Homo sapiens: one gene and its partners. The protein of the gene in region 2 purifies or fractionates together with the protein of the main gene of each other region. This does not show direct contact. Each region holds a gene or a part of one and is shown on either strand. Other genes may lie near its edges.

The links. The genes of interacting proteins can lie anywhere in the genome.
Region 1: the proteins of CTDP1 (region 2) and SUCLG2 purify together in Homo sapiens (affinity purification with mass spectrometry; 2 studies listed by BioGRID and IntAct, with this or other methods). This does not show direct contact.
Region 3: the proteins of CTDP1 (region 2) and LTN1 purify together in Homo sapiens (affinity purification with mass spectrometry; 2 studies listed by BioGRID and IntAct, with this or other methods). This does not show direct contact.

What each region holds. Positions count from the first base shown.
Region 1 is NC_000003.12:67,373,327-67,379,092, reverse strand, and holds the end of SUCLG2 (succinate--CoA ligase [GDP-forming] subunit beta, mitochondrial isoform 2 precursor), read left to right. Parts: intron 1-2,587; coding exon of another isoform or gene 2,588-2,631; exon of another isoform or gene 2,632-3,233; coding exon 3,234-3,349; 3' UTR 3,350-4,374; downstream 4,375-5,766. UniProt on the Homo sapiens protein: GTP-specific succinyl-CoA synthetase functions in the citric acid cycle (TCA), coupling the hydrolysis of succinyl-CoA to the synthesis of GTP and thus represents the only step of substrate-level phosphorylation in the TCA.
Region 2 is NC_000018.10:79,702,431-79,710,802, reverse strand, and holds part of CTDP1 (RNA polymerase II subunit A C-terminal domain phosphatase), read right to left. Parts: intron 6,037-8,372; coding exon 5,886-6,036; intron 458-5,885; coding exon 367-457; intron 1-366. UniProt on the Homo sapiens protein: Processively dephosphorylates 'Ser-2' and 'Ser-5' of the heptad repeats YSPTSPS in the C-terminal domain of the largest RNA polymerase II subunit. This promotes the activity of RNA polymerase II.
Region 3 is NC_000021.9:28,981,986-28,990,357, forward strand, and holds part of LTN1 (E3 ubiquitin-protein ligase listerin), read right to left. Parts: intron 4,950-8,372; coding exon 4,746-4,949; intron 4,253-4,745; coding exon 4,154-4,252; intron 2,938-4,153; coding exon 2,707-2,937; intron 384-2,706; coding exon 331-383; intron 1-330.

The DNA.
Region 1 (5,766 bases), on a different chromosome or scaffold from region 2:
TGCCTCTCATCCCAGCTACTCAGGAGGCTGAGGCAGGAGAATTGCTTGAACCAGGGAGGTGAAGGTTGCAGTGAGCTGAGATCACGCCACTGCACTCCAGCCTGGGTGACAGAGCAAGACTCTGTCTAAAACAAAATTTACACGTGTAACTGTCATTTACCTTCTGGTCCAAAGACTGGTTTGCTCCTGTGTCCATCAGGGCTTTTGTTTCACACTCTGTCATTACTCCATGAAAGCCATGCTTTGATTAGTTTCTAAATTCCTTAGCCTGCTATCTAACACCTGCCACAGTCAAATGAATCAAAGTGCACGCAGGTTGTGTTAATGAAATAATACATTTTTACATCTGTGTTACTTACCTATCAGCACTTAACAAATTACCCCAAAATGTAGCAGCTTAACAAAAAGAACAGTTATTATCTCACAGTTTCTGTGGTCAGGAATCTGGGTGTGGCTTAGGTGGATCCTCTCACTCAGGGTCTCTCACAAGGCTGCAATCACAGTGTCAGCCGAGCTGTAGTGATCTCAAGGCTTGACTAGGGAAGAATTTGCTTCCAAGATCCCTTATATGGTTCTTGGCCAGATGCACTTCCTCCTTGGCTATTAGACCCAGAGCCTCAGTTCCTCATCAGCCGTTGGCCAGAGTTTGCCCTCAGTTCCTTGCCCAGGTGAGTCTCTCCAGAGGGCAGCTCATAGCAGGGTAGTTTGCTTCATCAGAGTGAAAAAAGAGTTAAAGGGAGCAAGACTGAAGCCACAGGCTTTTGTAACCTAGTCTCAGAAGTGACACTCCATCACTTTTGCCATGTTCTTATCTATTAGAAGTAAGGCTGTGGGTCCAGATCATACTCAAGGGGGACGGATTCTACAAAGATGTGACTACCAGGAGGCAAGAGTGATTGATCTTTGAAAACCATTTTAGAAGCTGCCTTCCACAGCATTTACAAAGTCATATGTTAGTCAAAATAATGCTAGCTCCTGTAACAACAGAAAAATGCAGAAATTTCAGAGTCTTAACATTATAGAAGGGTCTTTCTCATTCCCATAAGGTCTAAGAGGGTGAGTGGGTAAGATGCTTGGCTCCAGAGAGTTATTAAAGTATCCAGGCTGAAGGAGTCATTGCCATCTTCAAGAAGTGATTTGGCTGGGTGCAAGGGCTCATGCCTGTAATCCCAGCATTTTGGGAGGCCACGGCAGATGGAGTCCTTGAGTTTAGGAGTTCAGGACCAGCCTGGGCAATGTGGAAAAACCCCATCTCTACAAAAAATACAAAAAATAGCTGGGCGTGGTGATGTGTGCCTTTAGTCTCAGCTACTTGGGAGGCTGAGGTAGAAGGATCACTTGGGCACCGGAGGCTGAGGCTGCAGTGAGCTGAGATCACACCACTGCACTCCATCTTGGGTGACACAGCGAGAGCCTATCTCAAAAACAAAAAGCAAGACAAAACACAACCAGAACCAAAAAGGTGACTTCCAGGGCTGCCCCAGCTAGGAACACTCCAGAAAGCAGACAAGGAAAACCGAGTGTGAAGAGTCCCTTTGGAGATTGTCATGGCCATGTGACATTCCTTTGGCCTGAACTCAGTCACATGTCCCCTTCGAGATGCAGGGGGGCCTGGGAAATGTAGTTTCTGGCTGGGCAGCTGCTTTCCAGCAATAGCACTCTACTGCAGAAGAGGAGCAGGAGTCTGTGGTGCAAAGCCAGCCAGGCCTGCCACAGATACTGCACCATTTACAAAAATGCTTTTACACTCATTTCATTTGCTTCTCATCACAATCTATACCATCAGCTATACTGTCCTCATTTTTCAAGTAGGTAAGCAGACTAGCATATCTTTAGAACATGCAGCGTTTATAATTACAGAGAACAGTTCAAGTCCCATCTCTGACACTTACCGCCTCTGTGACCATGGAAAAGTTATTTAACTTCTCTGTGCCTCAGTTGCCTTATCTGTAAAATAGGAACAATAGGACTACTCATAGTTTTTGTAAAGATTTCATATGCTGTGTATAAGTTACTTAGCACTGTGCCTGGCATACATAAGCACTTAATGATATTAGTTCTTGGGAAGATTACGAGGATGATAGTGCTCTGTATGGAAACAAAAGTTAAGGCTCAAAGAAGTTAAACGATTTACCCAAAACTACATAACAAGTACATGGCAGAGCCAGCATGGAGATTTTAGGTAGCAGCTTCCCACATTTTATGCTTTCACCTTCCAGAGAGGACTTTCACCAGCTTCCTCTGTAAAAACAGGAGTAGGTGAGCCTTAAGGTGAAGACACAGTGCCAAGCGGCCATCTTCACTGCTGCTTGGGTAGACCCAGGGTCCCAGGGGAATCAGTGCTGCATCATCTTTTCAATCCACCCATTTCTATTTAATCCAGCATTTGCCTCTTTATATGAAATGTGCTGACCCAGTGCCTCTTTTTATCTGCACTCTTTGTGGTAAGGCAAGTTCTCCAAGGCCTATATTTCAAGGTCTTTGTTTATAAATAGGCTCTGTCTTGCCAACTAGATAAAAGCACAGGAAATGATGTAGGATGAGATATTTCATTAGACACTTAAATTCTATTACATTTCTCCTACAGGAGTTGTTCACTCTAAAATGGCAGAAAAGCAGTTCTCATGTTAAATAGTCCCCAAGCACACCTTTGAATGAAGTGACTTGGCCAGAAGATACTCCAGATCCACCAGGAACAGTCAAGAGATTGCCATCAGAGGCTGCTTTGCCCGTTTTGAAGGGCTCAGCCCATTTCATTTTATAGAGTGAGGAGAAGGCAGAAATGGACATGCTGGATGCGCCAGAGTCTCCAAAGCAGTGGATTTGTGGACATAGCTGGGCAGATTCTCGGAACTTCCTTTCTCAAATCAGGTCACAGCCCAAACCCCTGATGACGTCTGAGAGGGCTTTAAGACAAGTGACTTCTGGTGTGGGCCAAAACCGCATTAAATCCACATGGCTGTGATTATCAGCAGACAACTCAGCTTCCATCAGTAAAATATGTTCATTTCCCTCTTGCAAGCCCTTGCTTTCATCTTCTTTTCTAGCTGGACCACAGCTTGAGATAAATTTCATCACATAATCTTTTCTGTCAGTGACCTTGATGAGAACCTATATTTAATTCATTTCCTAGTGAAAAGCTGTAGACAGGTGAGTCTTGTGTGTCCTTGTGCAAACTTCATAAGGCGCCACCTCTAGTTTCATTCAGTGATTGTTCCCTGTCCCCCTTCTAGGAACCAACGTCCAAGAGGCCCAGAAGATACTCAACAACAGCGGACTCCCCATTACTTCAGCCATTGACCTGGAGGATGCAGCCAAGAAGGCTGTGGCCAGTGTGGCCAAGAAGTGATGTCTTTGTCCTGATCCAATGGAGAAAGAAAGCCATTTTTCCGTAAAAAGGGATGGTTCATCATTGTGAAAGAAATGGTTATCTCATTGGGGAAGAAAAGGGGAGGGGGAAGGCAAGAATCACTGAAAAATCTTAAATCTGTGTTTTCTGGAATAAGATATCTAGACAGCCTAAATCTGATTTTGGTCTTTATAAAAATAATATCTTGTGTTCTCATACTTTTCTGTCACTGTAAGCCTGCCCAGTAGGCAGTGTTTTGCAGACTTTGGGGAGTGGTCTATGTGGCCAAATATTGTGTGTATAGACAGAATTTGAAATCAAGTCCTGCTTCATTTACAAGAATTTTGGTGGGCATCTAATCCTACATAATGAAAAAGAAAAACAGACCATTTAAAAACTCAGACAAGATTATATTTAATATATTAATTACTAAAAAGGCATAAGATTACACTGAACATATTAGCTACTAAAAAGGCACTGCTAAGACATTCAAGCAAATAGCTATTACACACTACTGCAGATTTTACAGGTTTCTAATTCTAACATATGTTTGAAAAATCCGTGAGTATTCCAAAATATATTTAATAATGGAATATCTGCATTAATATACCATCCATGTGTTTTTACCATTTGCCTTAATATTGAATATACTGTTTACCTCACACTAAAAAGAAAACCAGAAGCCTTATTTGTGATTTTGGGAGTGGAAGCTTCCATTTTTGTGTCAAAAATGAATCCTGATTCTTATGGAAATCTCTGTTATTAAGATATTTCAAGATGAGACAACACTGAAGATCAAATTGTGTTTAGTATCACTATCTTCTCTCCTCGTTTCTCTCTTACTCCTCATCCTCCCAGAATCTACCAGTTTATGGTAGAAAGATGGGAACCTTATTTGAATGTGTTTTTTTTTTCCATGATGTCCAATTTTGTTGTGGGAAAGGATTTGGATAAAATTTTTGTTTAAATTTTGGTAGATTTTTATCTATACAAATTTAAATAAAATTATGTTTTGTAAGCTGTAAGATCTGTGTGTATCTCTCATTTTACTCAATTTTATTCCTCAAACATTTTTTTTTTTTACAAAGACACTAGTCTTAGTGTCTTAGGTATGCCTCTAAAATTTGATAATTTGGGTCATTCCAGGATTATTCCAGTTCCACTCAACTTTATCAGATACCCATTTCTGTGTTAGGAGATTATTGAATCCATAAAAGTTATACACAAACCAGAACCCCAGGAATGTATCTCAGATGTCTGACAGGTTGAACTGTGATGTCAGTCTGCGTAACGCAAAGGGAGATACTCCAGTATAACTCATTCCATTAAGTGAGGCTCAATTGCCACCATTAATTTTCCTTTCAGTGTATAAATATGTAGTAGACCAAACTATTTTGTTTGTTTTTTTTACCAGCTTACTTTGTTCTCATAAATTTTATGTGTGGACAAAAGTATGAAAGTCATTATTGTTTAGAGCCATGTTTGCCATGGAGAAATAAACTATTGGATAGATCAGTCTTACATCCTTTCTTAATGCCCATGCAATGAATGAAGAATATTAACAATGTCTTCTTAGTTGTGTTTTGGTTTTTGATAGCTTAATCACTAGTTGGTGCAGTAAAAAAAATAACCTATATTATGTCAACTAGACAACATTTTTAAATTTTTGATCTCTGAAGAGGACTATGTTTGAATCACTTGTAAATATTGATGTTTCCAGTCAACCCAATTTGGAGGAGGGGATAAAGCAATTAAATCATTTTTGTGATTATTTCATAAAAGGGTTAATAACAAGGAAATAGCCTTTTATTTTCAAATAAGCTCAAAGCCATCAGAGCTTGTTCTTTTTGCATCCTTAGCGTAGCTTGTCTCTAATTGTTTTATTCTCAGGCAGGCCATTTTTACAGGTGGATAATGGCTGCTGGCCATTACATGTGAGGTTCTCAAATTTAGCATCCTCAGAAGAGAAAGAGAGAGGGAGCAGAGGGAAAGAGAAAATAAATGAGCAAATAAACGAAAGAAAGAGGGAGGAAGGAGAGAGGAAGGAAAGAAGCTTCTCTTGGTAATTCTAAGACACCTCCCAAAATTGAATATGACTCCAGTGATCAGTTTCAGGTCAGTAACCTATTCCTGAATCTGGCCCCGGTTCATTTACAATAATTTTTGTGGTCTTCTATACAATAAATATAGGCCATAAAAAACTCAGACAAGTTTACATTTAACATATTAACTACCTGATATGGTTTGGCTGTGTCCCCACCCAAAATCTCATCTTGAGTTGTAATCAGTGTTTTTGATTGTTTTGGCTTTGAGCTTATTTGAAAATAAAAGGCTATTTGCTTGTTATTAATCCTTTTATGAAATAATCACATAAATGATTTAATTGCTTTATCCCCTCCTCCAAGAATTAAATTACA
Region 2 (8,372 bases):
AGGCTGAGGCGGGAAGATCACGAGGTCAGGAGATCGAGGCCATCCTGGCTAACACAGTGAAACCACCGTCTGTACTAAAAATACAAAAAAAAAAAAAAAAAAAAAAAAAAAAAAAATTGCCGGGCGAGGTGGTGGGTGCCTGTAGTCCTAGCTACTCAGGAGGCTGAGGCAGGAGAATGGCGTGAACTCTGGAAGCAGAGCTTGCAGTGAGCCGAGATCGCGCCACTGCACTCTAGCCTGGGCAACAGCAAGACTCCGTCTCAAAAAAAAAGAAAAAAAGAAATACTGCTCTAAATTTCAAGATGCGATTTTTGAAATGGGAAATGAACAGCGAGGTCTTTGTGAGGAGCGCGGCTGGGTACATACCTAAGGTTTCCCGTTTTAGAAAATGGGTCAATACATTCATCCCTTGATAATATTCGGTGAGAAAAAAGCTTCTTCTCGGGGTCTAAAAAGCCTTGGAAAAGAAAACAGGACAAAGATTACATACCTGAGACACGTTTCGGTCACACGGCACATGGTGAAGCCTTGAATGTTTTTTTTAAAGTGGCAGACACACAACATGATGAACTGGCACCAAACACTTCATCCCTTTTGAGGTAAGACGTGGCTCGTGTGGGGCTTCTTTTCTCTTATGGTGAACTTATTTCTCAAACACAAACCATGTTGATAAGTGTTTATAATTCTACTAACATGAAAAATTTGTAATATCTTACTGAAGTGCCTATCTAAACCAGATGGATATGAAAATTATGGAAGGCACTTGCATAAGTAAAACAGGTAAGTCATCATTTGATCTCAAAACACTCTGCATGTGGTTCTTCACGTGATGGAGTCTGGACACTAAGCTGAAATTACTCTGCGTCACCTCGGATATGATCTTTCCTAACCCCAGGCGGGTGGCCCACTGCTCTCATCTGTAATGGTTAGTGGAGGAAAGGTTATCAAGGAAGTTTGCTTCTCCCAAGTTACTTTAGTAGAATTATACAAACTCACACTCTGTGTTGTAGAAATACACAGAAAGGCCGGTTATTTCTAACTATTATACACGTTTTAATAATGGTAATTTAGGCAACATCGAGGAAGCCTGCCTGACAGAGGAGACTGGGAAGGAAGGACATCCGGGACACCACCTTGACCAGCTAGTGCAGAAGGTGCTTCCACAGCGAAGAATCCGCTTAGGCTACATTTGACACTTGCACTTCACATGACATCCGTTAATTACAAGTCTAGTTTAACTTTTTAACAGTAATTTTCTAAAGAGCTTCACATGCTTGATGCTCAGCTTCGACTCCTTAAAGATAGTAAAACCAAGCTATCTGCAAACATCCCTTCTACACTTCAGGAAGCACCACTGTGAAAATCAACAAATCAGGCAGAGGTTTCTTGGGATCACCTCTGCTCTGGGTTTCTTGATCTATAAATTTATCTTCTGAACTTTAAGCCTACTGTGTTATCTTCCTAAGTTTGCAAAGTCTTCAATTTACAGTAAAGTGCTCATATTTTTAAATAAAGATAATTTAAAAATAAGTTATCTCTTGTTAGTTTACAAGAACCACAGAGTATATAGGAAACATATTTCAGTTTGTAGAAGTAGGGGTACTAAACAAAAACAAAACAACCTTTCAGGTAATTTATTCCATTGGTAAAATATGTTGGAGGCATCAAGTTCAATGTCAATTTAATTTCACCAGCCATTTAAAACATTCTGGAGAGAAAAAGCTACGGTTAATTATGAAGCCTCAAAAAGAAATGTTTCAGCTACTCATCATACAAGTGGCTGAAGCCATAAATCTGCACATACCTCAAGAGATAGGTATTCCATGGCACCCACATAACGTGTTTAAGGGTATTCGATCATTTAACATTTACTGAGTTTAACATTACTTGGAATTTTGCTAGGAATATAAGGTGCGGGAATGAATACAACATAATTATTACTCTCCCAAGAGGCTGAAATTGTAAGAAAATTGAACACATTAACACACAACCTCTATCTGGCCTGACACGTGCAGGTGCCGTGGAACAAAACGGGGACTGGATTGCACAAGAGTGAGCCGGTCCAGAGTCGGGAGCTGGGACTGTGGTCTTGTCATGGCACGCAGGTCCCCTGCATAACCGTTAGTTATGCATGAAGCAAAGGAGGTAGATGAGACATCTCAAAAGCACTGTGAACCCAAAGTCCAACCACGCAGCCCACATTCTCTCAAGACTTAAGTCTCACTGGAACGCCTGGCTCCACGCCTCTGCATGGCACACGGGGTCCACTTCCGGATCCGAATGCACCCCGGAACGCCTGGCTCCACGTCCCCACGTGGCACACGGGGTCCACTTCCGGATCTGAACGTGCCCTGACTGCACTCCACATAATCACTATTGTTTTCACGCTGGCTTTTAATCAACTACTCCCTGCACCCATCCCTACTGGGCTCAACCTCTGCACCACCACCTCTGAGATCACAAATGCGAGAAACACATTTGCTGTTTTTGATACAGGTTAAAACATACACATTACAATTAAAACAGAAGAGCTGCTCTGTGCACCACCTCAGTTACCCTGCAGCCCCACGGCACTATGCACAATGCACTGTGGGATCCGTAAGATCTTCTGGGAAGATGAACCTGCTTCCTGGCTGAAGCATCACCACCTCCAGACGTTTCAAATGCAGTACTGCCAGGAGCTTTCCGTTCCCTGATACCACTGGTTTGTTAGTATTTCATTAACCAAAAGATACTTGGGCTTAAAGGAGAAATAAATGCGATTGTTTCTCACTATGCGTAAATTCCAGATGATCACTGAGGCCATGAAGTCGCTAGATCTAAAGTCTGTTAATAGAATTATTAGCGTCTCTACTATCAGATAAAAGACACGCATCGCAAACTCTTAACATCTCTGTCCTAGTCATACTGAAAGCACGCATGCTATCAACACGGTCACTTTCAAAATGAAAAGCATCAAAAGCAGATGCTCGGCGACCACCTCAGGCTTCAGTCCGGACCTCACTTTCTCACTTGTAGAAAAGCTGACCCAGGTCATCTCTACAGATCCCGCCAGCCACAATGAAGCAAAGCTCGGCCTTCCTGAACCACAGCCTGGACACAGTCTTCCTCCTGCGTTGCTGGGCTCGAGGGCCCATGTTCTGTTGAGAATTTCTGCATCCATGTTCAAAGGGATACTGGTCTGCAGTTTTCTTGTGATGTCTTCGTCTGGTTTTGGCCGACATCCCTTGGACACGTTGGAATGCTGGAACTTTAGCATAGAAAGCAGAGCTTGAAACGGAGAAGGCACCAGACGGCCCGGTGACGCTCAACAAACCTAGCTGGTCTCACTGCAGGAGGACCCGCGCTCGAGGCTCTCCGCAGCCAAGCGCCCACCAGCAGGCTCCCTGCTCTGCTGTCTAAGCGGCTCAGAGGCCTGCGGATGTCTGCATGGATGCTCTGCTGAATCTGCGAGCAGCTCCCAGGCTCCCTCCAGCTTTCAGGCTGATAAAGAAACATGGCGTTCTCGTCACCTGCTTCATCTCTCACCACACGAGGCCTCATGAACGTGGAATCAGACTGTGGTGACCCATACCCTGCCTGCTGGTGTGACGGGTGGCAAGGGTGTAGCCCGGCTAAAACCTGGGACCCTCTGCTTTTAGCCCAAACCCCTCCAGCCAAGCATTTAAACAGATCCGAGCCTTCCACATGCTCCTCCTCACTGGGGCTTGTGTGCTCTGACCAGCAAACATCGATGCACCTCAGGAAAGGATAAGCAAGACGTGTGAAACAGCGAACCTAAAGAAGCCCAGCTTCAGAGAGAGACCTGGAGAAGGAAATCCGAAATGAGAAACACTTGCACGGGCACCAGATCAACGTATGGAAGACGGGACAGGAGGAGAAGAAACATCACTGGCATCCTGGACTCAGACGTGCAGGTCACCGGGCTGTGCCCGCTGGTGTGCGCCTTGTGTGGGAGGCGGGAGGCAAACCCGTCACCCTCCCAGGGAGCAGGCCATGCGGCGTGCAGTCCTCACAGTCCTGGGGGTCAGGAACCACTCCCTCACCGAACAATCCTGGTTTTAGGAACTCACCCAGAGGATCCAGTCCACAGAGGAGGGAAAAAAATCTTACATAAAATGATGAAGATTTATAACAACGTGATGGATAAATTCTTAGTGATGAAATCTTATGTGAAAAGAACGGTATGTAAACTTGTACATATATTAAGACAAACTAGGCAAAATTATACATACAAAAAAAAAACCAGAGAATAGGGGACAGCCATGGATATGATGAGCGTGAGGAATAATTTTCTGGTTTTTAGTCTTTCCCTGACATTTGTTATTGTGAGAGTGATGCCCCGCTCAGTTGTCTGGTTTGAGTGGGCGTCACTGTCCCTGCGGTTTGTGTGACTTATGGGTTGTCCTCTGGGAGGTGCCTGGCACTGGCTGCAACGGCACAATCTGGGGCTGGAACACATGGGGATTTGGGGGTCTATTTCCACACAGTGGGCAGCTTAGTCGGCCTGGGCTGCTCTAAAGAAACTCCATAGTGTGGGTGACTCAGGAACACACGTCCCTTCCTCACAGTTCTGGAGGCCGGCGTCCGACCACGGCGCCAGCAACTTGGCTGCAGGTCAGTGGGCGCCGGCTTGCTGCATTTCCCGCAGCTCCCAGGGCCCACCTGGGTAAGGGCCCTGATTCCATTCACGAGGATGGAGTCCACAGGACCTCACCACCTCCCACGCCCCTCCTAACACCCTCGCCCTGGGACTGGGTTTTAACACATGGACTTGGGGGCTGTAAAACCCTCAGATCATAGCAGGCATTATTTCTTCACTGGCCCGAGGAAGTGAGCAATATCACCCTTGTGCATAATTACTCGTCTTCACATCATCTGTCTCAGGCAGCTATGCAGCAGCAGCCATAATGTTACAGGTGAATATTTCAAATTTCAATTACAAGAGGAATTAAAGGTCATGATCACAATTTCCTATAAAGGCACTAAATATTAAAGGAGGATTCAAAATTCATTTCCCCAACAACAACAAAAGACTAAGACCAATCTAGAAAGACCTTTGAATTTTAAAATGCTCAGTCTAACAACCTCTGGAGCCAGTACGGAGGAGCTTGCCTACACTGCCACTCGGCGCCTACATCCATGTGGGACAGACGGTCGCCGTCCCGTGGCAGCCCCCTCGCTTTGTCCACGTGGGACAGACGGTCGCCGTCCCGCACTGTCCCCTTGCTTCGTCCACGTGGGACAGACGTTGCTTCGTCCACGTGGAACAGACGGTCGCTGTCCCACTTTGTCCCCTCGCTTTGTCCATGAAGGACAGACGGTCACCATCCTGTGGCGTCCCCTCACTGCATCCACATGGGACAGTCACCGTCCCGTGGCACTGTCCCCTCGATTCGTCCTGCTGGTGCTGCCTCCCAGAGGGCACCGTAGCCTGGCATTCACGCTATCACCCAGGGAGACAGAAGCAAACGCTAAACCCTAAGGGTACCCATGTGTAGGCAGGGGACAATCATGCTGTGTGCAGTGACAGCACCCAGCAAGAGCACACACAAGCAGCCCGGCCCAAAGTCCCTGTGAACTGATTTAAGAAGGTATCTGTCGGAGGACGCTCGCAGAAGTTTCCACGTGCCCATGTGGTCCTGACAAACTCCCAAAGCGGCCCACCCAGTACCGCACCCGGCCAGAGCAGCCGCGGCCCCACCCAACAGCCCTGGTGGCAGAATTCCCTTACCTCTCACAACCCCCTGCACAACGGCCAACCCTAAGACTACAACTGAGTTGCAGGAGAGCTTCTTTTCTTTCTTCATCTTTAAGAAACCATCACCGAAAACAGGAAAGAAACCCACTGTTCACACGGCCTCTTCGGCTGCGGCTTGACTGACCTGCGATGGTGTGTGCGTACAGCCGGCTGCCGAAGGTGAAGACGTGCAGCTCGTACAGCTTGGCGATCTTCTCCAGGAAGTCCTTGCAGTGTGGACGCAGGCGCGTGTGCAGCATGGGCTCACCCCGGCCCAGCTGGAAGTGAAAGATGCCCTAAAAAGAATAGTAGCAACAGTCGGGAGAAAAGGCCTGAGGAGCCCCGGCCGCCCCCGCAACCTGTGTGCCCGAGACAGGCATCCTGAGAACACACGTGTGCCCCAGACAAGCGTTCTGAAGACACGCGTGTGCCCGACAGGCGTCCTGAAGACACACGGGTGCCTGAGACAGGCGTCCTGAAGACACACATGTGCCCATCCCTCCACATGGGACAGAGGATACACGTTTGCATGTACACGCCCCTCCACACGGGACAGAGGACACATGTGAGCATGTACACGCCCCTCCACACGGGACAGAGGACACGTGTGCGTGTACACGCCCCTCCACACGGGACAGAGGACATGCGTGTGTACACGCCCCTCCACGTGGGCATGGGACAGAGGACATGCGTGTGGACACACCACTCCACGTGGGACAGAGGATGCGTTTGCACCCGCCCCTCCACATGGGACAGGGGATAGGAGTGTGCACACACCTCTCCACGTGGGACAGAGGACGCATGTCCGCCTGACCCTCCAAATAAGGACGTGACCCTAACTGGTGCAAGGGGCTACCCGTGGCATTTAAAACCCACTGTGTAAGTAGTTTCCATGCACGCGGTACGAGTGAGTGAGTGCGGCCTTCTCTGCTGCGGGAATGCCCTCAGTGAGTGTGAATACTGACTGCCCGTGGTAACTAGGATAACCACCTACCTGCAACAACTGTTCAAGATAACCACCCTGGGTACCACGTTAACAGTAACAGCCTACGGTAACTACATGATAACCACCGATGACAGCTACACTAACTACTCACAATAGCTACCTGCCTGCAACGACCCGCCTAGGATAACCACCCCCGATAACCAGCCAAGAGTAACAGCCTGTGATAACTACACGATAACCATCCCCAATAACCACGCCAACAGTCACCACCTATGATAACTACATAACCACCGATGATAGCTACACTAACTACTCCTGGTAACTACCTACCTGCAACGACCGCCTAGGACATAACCACCCCTGATAACCACGCCAACAGTAACAACCTACACTAACTATGAGCTAACCACTGATGTCACTTCTGCCTTTGTTTCCTCGCTGATACGTGTTACACAGCAAGGCCACCGCAGCTGCTCGGAACAGACCTCCACCAACATCACGTGCTGACAGTGTTTTCCTGAGCTACTGAATAAAGGAAATCAACATTCCCGGGTAACCTGGTATAACGCATGGGTGATTTTCAGACAGTTTCTTTCATCTACATATACAACATAAAAGCTGAAAGTATTCTAAGTCATATTTAGTAGACAGTGAAATGAGCAACACCGACTCGCTTACATATGATCGACATGCAAATGAGTCTGCTTTCCTTAGGAAGCTAAACTTCGATCCTTTAAATCCTGTTATTTTCTCAGTAAAATATTTACTCTTAATGGCTTTAAAAAAAGGTAGATGACTTAAGCTCAGTTACATTTTTCTAGTTCTAAGTTAGTTACGACCCTCATGAAGAAGCTACTCTGTTCAAGGTTTAGGAGTGAGAAGTTCTAGTAACAACTTTCCCAGTTACATTTTTCTAGCTCTAAGTTAGTCACGACCGTCATGAAGAAGCTACTCTGTCAAATATTTAGGAGTGAGAAGTTCTAGTAACAACTTTCCCATTACTCAACAGTAAAAAGTCCAGCAGCTGTCCAGGCTTCGGGAGCTGTGGCCAGCACCACTTCTGATCCCTGAAATTGCTTTCAGAGGGGCCAGCAGTAGGGCCAGGCACCAGCCTCAGGGTCTCCTCTGGATGTCAAGTGGGGCACACTACTGCTACTGAGGAGGCAGAGGACAGACCGTTCATGCTTAGACCCCCCTCCCCACTACATCAGGACACTGTCACCTTCCAGACCACACAACTGAGAAACAGCCACATTATAACTAGACTCCACTGTCTTCAGCAGGCCTATCCTGGAGATACTGAGAATCACATGAATTTTTTGGTTTCCCAGTGAATATAATCCATGCTGACACTCTACTGCAGCTTATTAAACATTCAATAGCATTATATCTAAAAGAACAATGTACCTAACTTAATTTAAAAATACTTTATTATTAAAAATCACCGGGCGTGGTGGCTCAATGCCTATAATCCCAACACTTTGGGAGGCCGAGGCGGGAGGATCACTTGAGGTCAGGAGTTCGAGACCAGCCTGGCCAATATGGCACAACCCCGTCTCTACTAAAAATATAAAAATTAACTGGGTGTGGTGGTACACGCCTGTAGTCCCAGCTACTCGGGAGGCTGAGGCACAAGAATGGCTTGAACCCGGGAGGTGGAGGTTGCAGGATAGAGAGATCGTGTCA
Region 3 (8,372 bases), on a different chromosome or scaffold from region 2:
GGGTGGATCACCTGAGGTCGTGAGTTCGAGACTAGCTTGACCAACATGGTGAAACCCCATCTCTATAAAAAATACAAAAAAATTAGCCAGGTGTAGTGGTGCATGCCTATAATCCCAGCTACTCGAGAGGCTTAGGCATGAGAATCATTTGAACCCAGAAGCTGGAGGTTGCAGTGAGCTGAGACTGCGCCACTGCAATCCAGCCTGGGTGACAGAGTGAGACTCTGTCTCAAAAAAAAAACAAAAACAAAAAGTCACATTGAAATCATCTGATTACTTATGAGTGAAACAAATCCTTAACATGAGTTACAATGAAACAATACAACTTACTGCGGGTCACTGAGTGTATCAGGTGTTTCTTTTATAAGATGATCCTGCAGCACCTACAAAGGGGGGAAATACCAAAGCCTTTGGTTTTACTGAACTGTCAATGGTGAACAGACAGAGCCTAGTTAAATAAAATCCACTTTTTAAAAATCCCCATAAACATCATCTTACCTAAGAGCAGAATCAAATAGCAAAACTGAAAGGTTTGAATTTTACCAATTTTCCTTTTCCTATCAATTCCCAAGGTTAGCTGCTTTAGATACTTCTTCCCCACGCACCTATAAATACTCCTGACCACTTGTTCCTCCATTTCTCTTTCACACAGCAATGAAGTGAATGTGAATCTGGGAGATAAATTAGGCTCTGCTTTCCTCTCCCCTCTTTCTGTAAGCCTGCTTGCCCACAAAGAACACCATACATTGTGCTCTGCTCCATCACAGAGGAAGGTATGAGGTTTTCAAATATACGGAAGTCTGTTTCCTCCTGGGGTGCAGTGCAAGGGAGTCCACTGTTCCAGTAACTGCTTTATCAGCAATAACAATAACTAACACTTATTGAGCTTTTGCATGTGCCAGGTATTGCTTTGAGCACATTTTAGGCATTAACTAAATCAATCCTCAGAACTCCATGAAGTACAAGTTAATTCCTGCTTTATAGATTATGAAATGAAGGCACAGAAACTTGCCCAAGGTCACACACCTAGTTGCTAGCTGATGGCAGAGTGGGACTAGAACCAATGGTGTGACCCAGAGCCCATGTCTTATAGACAGTATGATATACTATCTATAATGCTGACATTTTGATTTTCATTTGCCTAACTCCTCTCTAATACATGGGTTTGGAACTGGAGACAGTTCAATGCCAACAGCTGTAATGAACTGTAACATAGCCAACTAAAGGGAAAATAAAATGGAAGAAATAACCCAATGTTCAATGATTAGTTATCCATCCATGACAAAGCCAAGAACAAATTTATTTTCTAAAGCCTATGAAGAGCCAAACTAGTTGTCTCAAAATCCATTTCCTAAAGCTCTTAGCGTCCAAACTCATGACACTTCACTCTTGTAACGTTTATAACTTGGCATTTTAAATCAACCAATGATTCTTATGCTACAGATGGGTTAGAAAACTCCATTTGAGCATATGATTAAAGCTACAAACCCTCTCTCTAGAAAAACACGCTTGGTACACCTGAGAAATGAAGAATGGAAGAACCTAAATGAGGTACTACAATCAAGTTATGTGTTGGGGAGTGCTGGGTGAAGAGATTAGATAGGGAAGCAGGGACCAGATCATGCAGAGCCTTGTATGTCAAGACAAGAAATTTGAACTTAAAAGTGTAATGGAGAGCCACAGGAAGGATGGCTAATTGAAAGGAGGAAGGAAAGCAGGGGGAGAGGGTCAGATGGAAATGTTTAAGTAGGGTTATACACAGGGTGTTGTGGAAACACAGGAGTACTAAATAAGGGAATAAATGCAAGCATAGATTTTTTAAAAAATTATCAATTCCCTCCTCACTTCTACTTCATCTACTTTTATTTCTCAATATAATTCTAACAACTTTGTTGTCTGGTTTTTCTAGTCCATATATTGGGAATAGAAAATGAAGGGGGAAGAAATGAGACACTACTAGAAACAGACACACTGAAAGCCACAAACAGGTATGGCTGGTAACTTTTTATGAGAAAGTTATGGCAAAAGTGTTAGCCCAGTGTGGAGAAACTTTATCTGAAAATGGGAGTATAAATTTGTTTGGCCTTTTGAAGGGCCATTTATCATTATAAAAAATTTTAATGTTCTTATTCTTTGGCCCAACATATGCTTACTAGAAGTTCTAGTAAGTATCACTCCCACAAGGGTATGAAGAGATCTACTCAAGAATGTTTACTGAAATAGCATTTGTTATGATAAAAATTGGAAAAAAATCCAAATGTATATTAATCTAAAAAGTTAAATAAACTACAGTACATCCATGTATAGTAATACCAGAGAGCCAATAAAAAGAAAAAGACACTAAGTTAGATCTGTATATATATATATATTGATATGGAAACACGAGAGAAAATAATTTTAGATTTATTTTTAGATATATTACTTGTTTAGATTACATAAAACATCTACTTTTTAAAAATATAATAAAGACTTCAAAATTAAAATGGAAAATTTAAATACTGTAGAAAGATCCAATCCAAAATGTTAATCTTGTTAAAGATCCAAAATGGTTATTTAACTAAACAGAATTTTAAAAAGGCAACCTTCAGTTGGAAATACTCTACTTACTCATTCCCCTACAATCCCAAGTAAAAGAGCTGTCATTATGCTTATAACCCTTAAATACTTAAAAAAAAAAAATAGATTCAGAATGATTCCAGAACTTACACTTGTAATTTCATCCTTACAAAATGCTATGGCTTCAGGTTGCTTGCTTGGAGGAAAAGCCGCTTCAAATGCATCTTTTGCTGCAAACGCAGCTGGTGTGTAAGTATCACACTGAGCCATTAGCCAATATCCCATTAAACTTTTTAAGTAGGGAGCCAACTGTTTCTTTACTTTAAGGATAAGTTTTTCAAAAGCTTGTTGTGTGGCTTCTCGGACGCGACGGTCATGATCCTATTAAAAATATAAATGTGATTTAAAATAGCTCTAGCCCATAAAAACAATCACAGACATTTCCGGATATGCTATAATGACCCATTACCAAGAATTCACCTATGTATTAAGCTAAACTGAAATCATTTTTTTTAAATCAATAATTTGGAGGTTTTTAAATCAGAAACTATGTAAAATAATTTATTAATTTTTCTTTCTCCCCTTCTCCCAATGAGATAGGATTGTATTCAAGACAGATTCAAAGTTGGGCCTTGAGGCCGAGCCTGGTGGCTCGTGCCTATAATCTCAGTACTTTCGGTGGCCGAGGCAGGCGGATTATTGGCGGTCAGGAGTTCAAGACCAGCCTGGCCAACATGGTGAAACCCCGTCTCTACTAAAAATACAAAAAATTAGCGGGGCATGGTGGCACACACCTGTAATCCCAGTTACTCAGGAGGCTAAGGCAGGAGAATCACTTGAACCCAGGAGACAAGGTTGCAGTGAACAGAGATCGCGCCACTGCACTCCAGCCTGGGTGACAGAATGAGACTCCGTCTCAATTAAAAAAAAAAAAAAAAAAGTTGGGTCTTCAATAATTAAGCAACTCACTCTCATTCTTCTGCAGCAAATATACAGGGAATAAAATCACTATCAAAATTTATTAAAACTGGAAAGCACCTGGGTAATTCTCCAGTAACAACCTAATTTCTGAAAACAGACTTCCTAAATGTTCTTCATAACCCAACACAATCCAATCTTTTTTTTTTTTTTTTTTAAAGACATTGTCTTGTTCTATTGTCCAGGCTGGAGTGCAGTGGTGCAATCTTGGCTCACTGCAACCTCCGCCCCACCGGGTTCAAGCGATTTTCCTGCCTCAGCCTCCCAAGTAGCTGGGATTACAGGCATCCATCACCACACCCGGCTAATTTTTGTATTTTTAGTAGAGACAGGGTTTCACCATGTTGGCCAGGCTGGTCTCAAACTCCTGACCTCAAGTGATCTGCCCACCTCAGCCTCCCAAAGTGCTGGGATTACAGGCATGAGCCACCATACCAGGCCCCAATCTCTTTTTTTATTTCCACGCTCTTCTCAAGTGTTAACAATTCAATCTGCATAACAATGCTGACATAACATTTAATAACCCTCACCAAAAATCAACATTATAAATTTGAGAGTCTCCATGACTCCAACCAAAAAATATACAACAGAAATAAACTAGCAAAGTTTTAATACTTACAAGTGAAATTTTGCAAAAAATTCTTGGCCAATATGGAAGAACTCCTTTCACAGTTTCTGTGTCTCTCTCTGTACACATGGTTCCAAATTCCTGCATAGCCTAAAAGTAAGTTATTAACATCATTAGGATTAACAACCATAATAACTGGCTATAGATTATTCTGTTCTGGAAGCTTTGTCTATTTTATGTAATAGGAGAATACACTATTTCTCTTTATGCCATATGAGACTAGTTTGAAGAGCTCTTTCACAGGCTACTACGGTAGAAACTCTTCAGTTGTTTTTTTAAAAATAAAACATCTACAAACAAAAAAACCTCATTTAAAGTTACAAGGTCAAAGTTACATTCCCTAATGGGAAAAACTATACAGCCAAAATTCCAAAGCACTTTAAAAAAGTTCACTGTAACAAACTAATTTACGACCTAGAAAATAAATATCAACTAAGTTTAAGACTCTGTGTCAGAAAAAAGTACAATTATAAAAGAACTTAGCAATAAATTGTTCATTTTTCTTTACATAAAACATGCTAATGACATTTTATTTTAACAAAGGGATTTTCTTGATAATTTTTATGAAAACAAGAAAACTTGCTTTTAATTTTGTGGTGACATCTTTCTTTGAAAGTTTCCGCAGCACCATTCGGAAATCAGAATCTACAAGACTGTCAATTTCTTCAGCTCCTTGAATAGCAGGAACATAGCCTAGGTCACTCTGAGATGTTCCAAAACCAATAAATCCAGGCACTGTTCCCTGTTCTTTGGCAAGGAGTTCTGCAGCTCGGCCACTGTTTGAAGGCTGATAAGAAAATTACGGAGAAAAAAGTCAGAGTCCAGGAAGGGTTCAAAACTTAACTTTATAATTCCTTGGCTATTCCCATGGTCAGAATGAGCTTTTATTTTATTTTCTTTTTTCCTAGCCTAAAATTTCATCTATTGCAAAGTTCCCCAAAGATTAATGGTTTTGTTGCCAAGAATCCATCAATACTGATCCTAGAAATTATTCTGTTTCTTAAACATTAGAATGTTTTGTAAACCATGGATACAATCCATTAGTGGCTCATGATATCAATATAATGGACCATGACAGAATTTTAAAGAAATTGATTAAAATTTTTAAAATCAGAATGTATCACATGCAGGAAAATTTTCATAAATGCTGTTATGAATTTTTTATTTCTAACTTTCATATAAATAGTATGTATACACATATGTATACTATGTAATGATGTAAAATGAACTCATAAATAGAACCCATCCTTTCATTCACCCATTAAATGAACAAATATTTATTAAACAATCACAATGGCCCAGGTCTAATGATAGCTGCCTCTAGACTGAGAGTTCCTTGAGAGTGGATACACTCATTTCCACACACTCCAAAGCCTAGCCTAACCTCTTTGGGCTAAAATTACATTATTATAGCCATAAAAATCAATACAACAGTCAATCTATAATACAGACTCCTTTGTTTTGAATCATAGTCAGTGGTTTCTTTGACTGATACACAATATAGTAGTCTTCTACTAAAAGGAGGTGAGTTGATACAGAGAAAGAAAATATTTGAACTGCTAAAAGAAATTAACTTATTGTTATCTAAACAGAAAATGCTTCAGTTTGACCACCAAGCTGACATCACAACCCATCTAAAGTCATCTATTTCTTATTTCTCTATAAGGATGTTTGCCAACGGTTATCCAAATGTGTGATTCAAATTGCTCATACCGGCCGGGCACAGTGGCTCACGCCTGTAATCTCAGCACTTTGGAAGGCCAAGGCGGGCAGATCACGAGGTCAGGAGTTCGAGACCAGCCTGGCCAACATGGTGAAACCCCATCTCTACCAAAGATACAAAAAATTAACTGGGCGTGGTGGCGCACGCCTGTAATCCCAGCTACTCGGGAGGCTGAGGCAAGAGAATCGCTTGAACCGGAAGGCAGAGGTTGCAATGAGCCAAGATTGTGCCATTGCACTCCAGCCTGGGTGACAGGGCGAGACTCTGTCTCAAAAAAAAAAAAAAACAACAAAAAAAAACAAATTGCTCATACCGGCCAGGCAAGGTGGCTCATGCCTGTAATCCCAACACTTTGGGAGGTCAAGGCGGGTGGATCACTTGAGCCCTGAAGTTCGAAACCAGCCTCGGCAACATGGCAAAACCCTGTCTCTACCAAAAACACAAAAATTAGCCAGGCGTGGTGGCATGTGCCTGTAATCCCACCTACTCAGGAGGGTGAGTCATGAGAATTGCTTGAACCTGGGAGGCTGAGGTTGCAGTGAGTCAAGATTGTGCTACTGCACTCCACCCAGGGCAACAGAGCGAGGCTCTGTCTCAAAAAAAAAAAAAAAATTCCTAATACCTAGCAAAAGTGTGTTTGGAAAATTCATCTGACAAGGAATAATCTGGCCTACTTCCTAAACTGAACTGAGTGAACAGGAAAGAAAATGATGGCCTGCATTACATTTGTTTTCAATCTGTAGCATTTAAGACTAATTCCAAAAAAGGTTCTCTATTTTTTTTTTTAAGTGAAAGTAAGTTTATTAAGAAAATAGGTCAGGCGCGGTGGTTCACGTCTGTAATCCCAGCACTTCGGGAGGCTGAGGAGGGAGATCACCTGAGATCAGGAGTTCAAGACCAGCCTGGCCAACATGGTGAAACGCCGTCTCTACTAAAAATACAAAATTAGCCAGGCATGGTGGCACATGCCTTTAATCCCAGCTACTTGGGAGGCTGAGGCAGGAGAATTGCTTGAACCCAGGGGGCAGAGATTGCAGTGAGTCGAGATTGCGCCATTGCACTCCAGCCTGGGCAAAAAGAGCGAAACTCCATTTCAAAAAAAAAAAAGAAAAGAATAAAAGAATGGCTACTCCATAGGCAAAGCAGCTGTTCTCTATTTTTTAAGTTTATTAAAATGAATTAATATTAATTATTCAATTCACCTTTCTCAATATTGGTACATGAATAAAGAGCCACAAAGGAAGTAGTTAGTGAATTATAATTCTTAAACTAAATATGATGACTTTAGGGTATCAGAATTTTCTACAATCTCATGTGTAAACGGTTTTATTATGAAACAGAATAAAAAACTAATTATTGCTAACATCTAAAGGAGTTGAGGCTGAAATAACAGAATTAGGAGTGATAACTAGGGGCAAAAGAGAAGGTATCAAATTTCCAGTCTCCAATTTAAAAGTAACAAGTTACTTTTAAATGCACTATCTTTTTTTAATGTCTACTTTAAATTTAAAATATAGTTACTCTTATGATCTTTGTATGTTAAGTGCTATACCCATAGTTCAATAAAAATTAAGAAACAATTCTATTTATGGCACTTATTTTTTTTTTTGTACTATGCCTACTTCTGTCTACACTCTTTCATGCCTAGCTTCTAGAGTTATTTGTGGTGGCAATCCTGAGTCTACAAAGACCAAACCAAGGAAGACTTACAAGACCTTTCACCATCTAACCTCAACTTTTCCCAGTCTTATCTCCTGCCACTCTTTCCTTCCCTTGCCCCACTTCCTTCTCCCTTCTTCAAATTATGCTGCCATCATTCATGCCCTAGTAGCAAACTGAATTCGAAGTTCTCTGAGGCAGGGCATGGTGGCTCACACCTGTAATCCCAGCACTTTAGGAGGCTGAGCGTATCTTTGGGCAGATCACTTCAGGCCAAGAGTTTGAGACCAGCCTAGCCAACATGGCAAAACCCTGTATCTATTAAAAATACAAAAAATTAGCCGGGTGTGATGGTGCATGCCTGTAATCCCAGCTACTCGAGAGGCTGAGGCAACAAAACTGCTTGAACCTGGGAGGTGGAGGTTGCAGTGACCCGAGACTCTGTCTCAAAAAAAAAAAAAAAGTTATCTATGTGATGGCCTTTCACAATTTGATCTTTATATAACCTTTTTTCTCTACCTGAAAACGCTTCCTTTCTTTTCACTGTCTGACAAACTCCTACTCATCTTTCAAACTCATGTTTGCAACACTTGCCTTCCTCCATTCTCTTCCATTCTCCCACATTCTTTCTTCTAATACCTGCATCATAATTCTTTAACATTTGCTTACATATGTGTCTGTATCATCAAACTAATAGTTCAAGAACAGCAGACATCTATTATCTCTGAATACCTGACATCCAGTATCAGAGTCTTCTATTGAAGACTTTGCCACATTAAAGTTAAAATCCCAACTCCACAACTTCCTGGCTACATGAGCTTAGGCAAG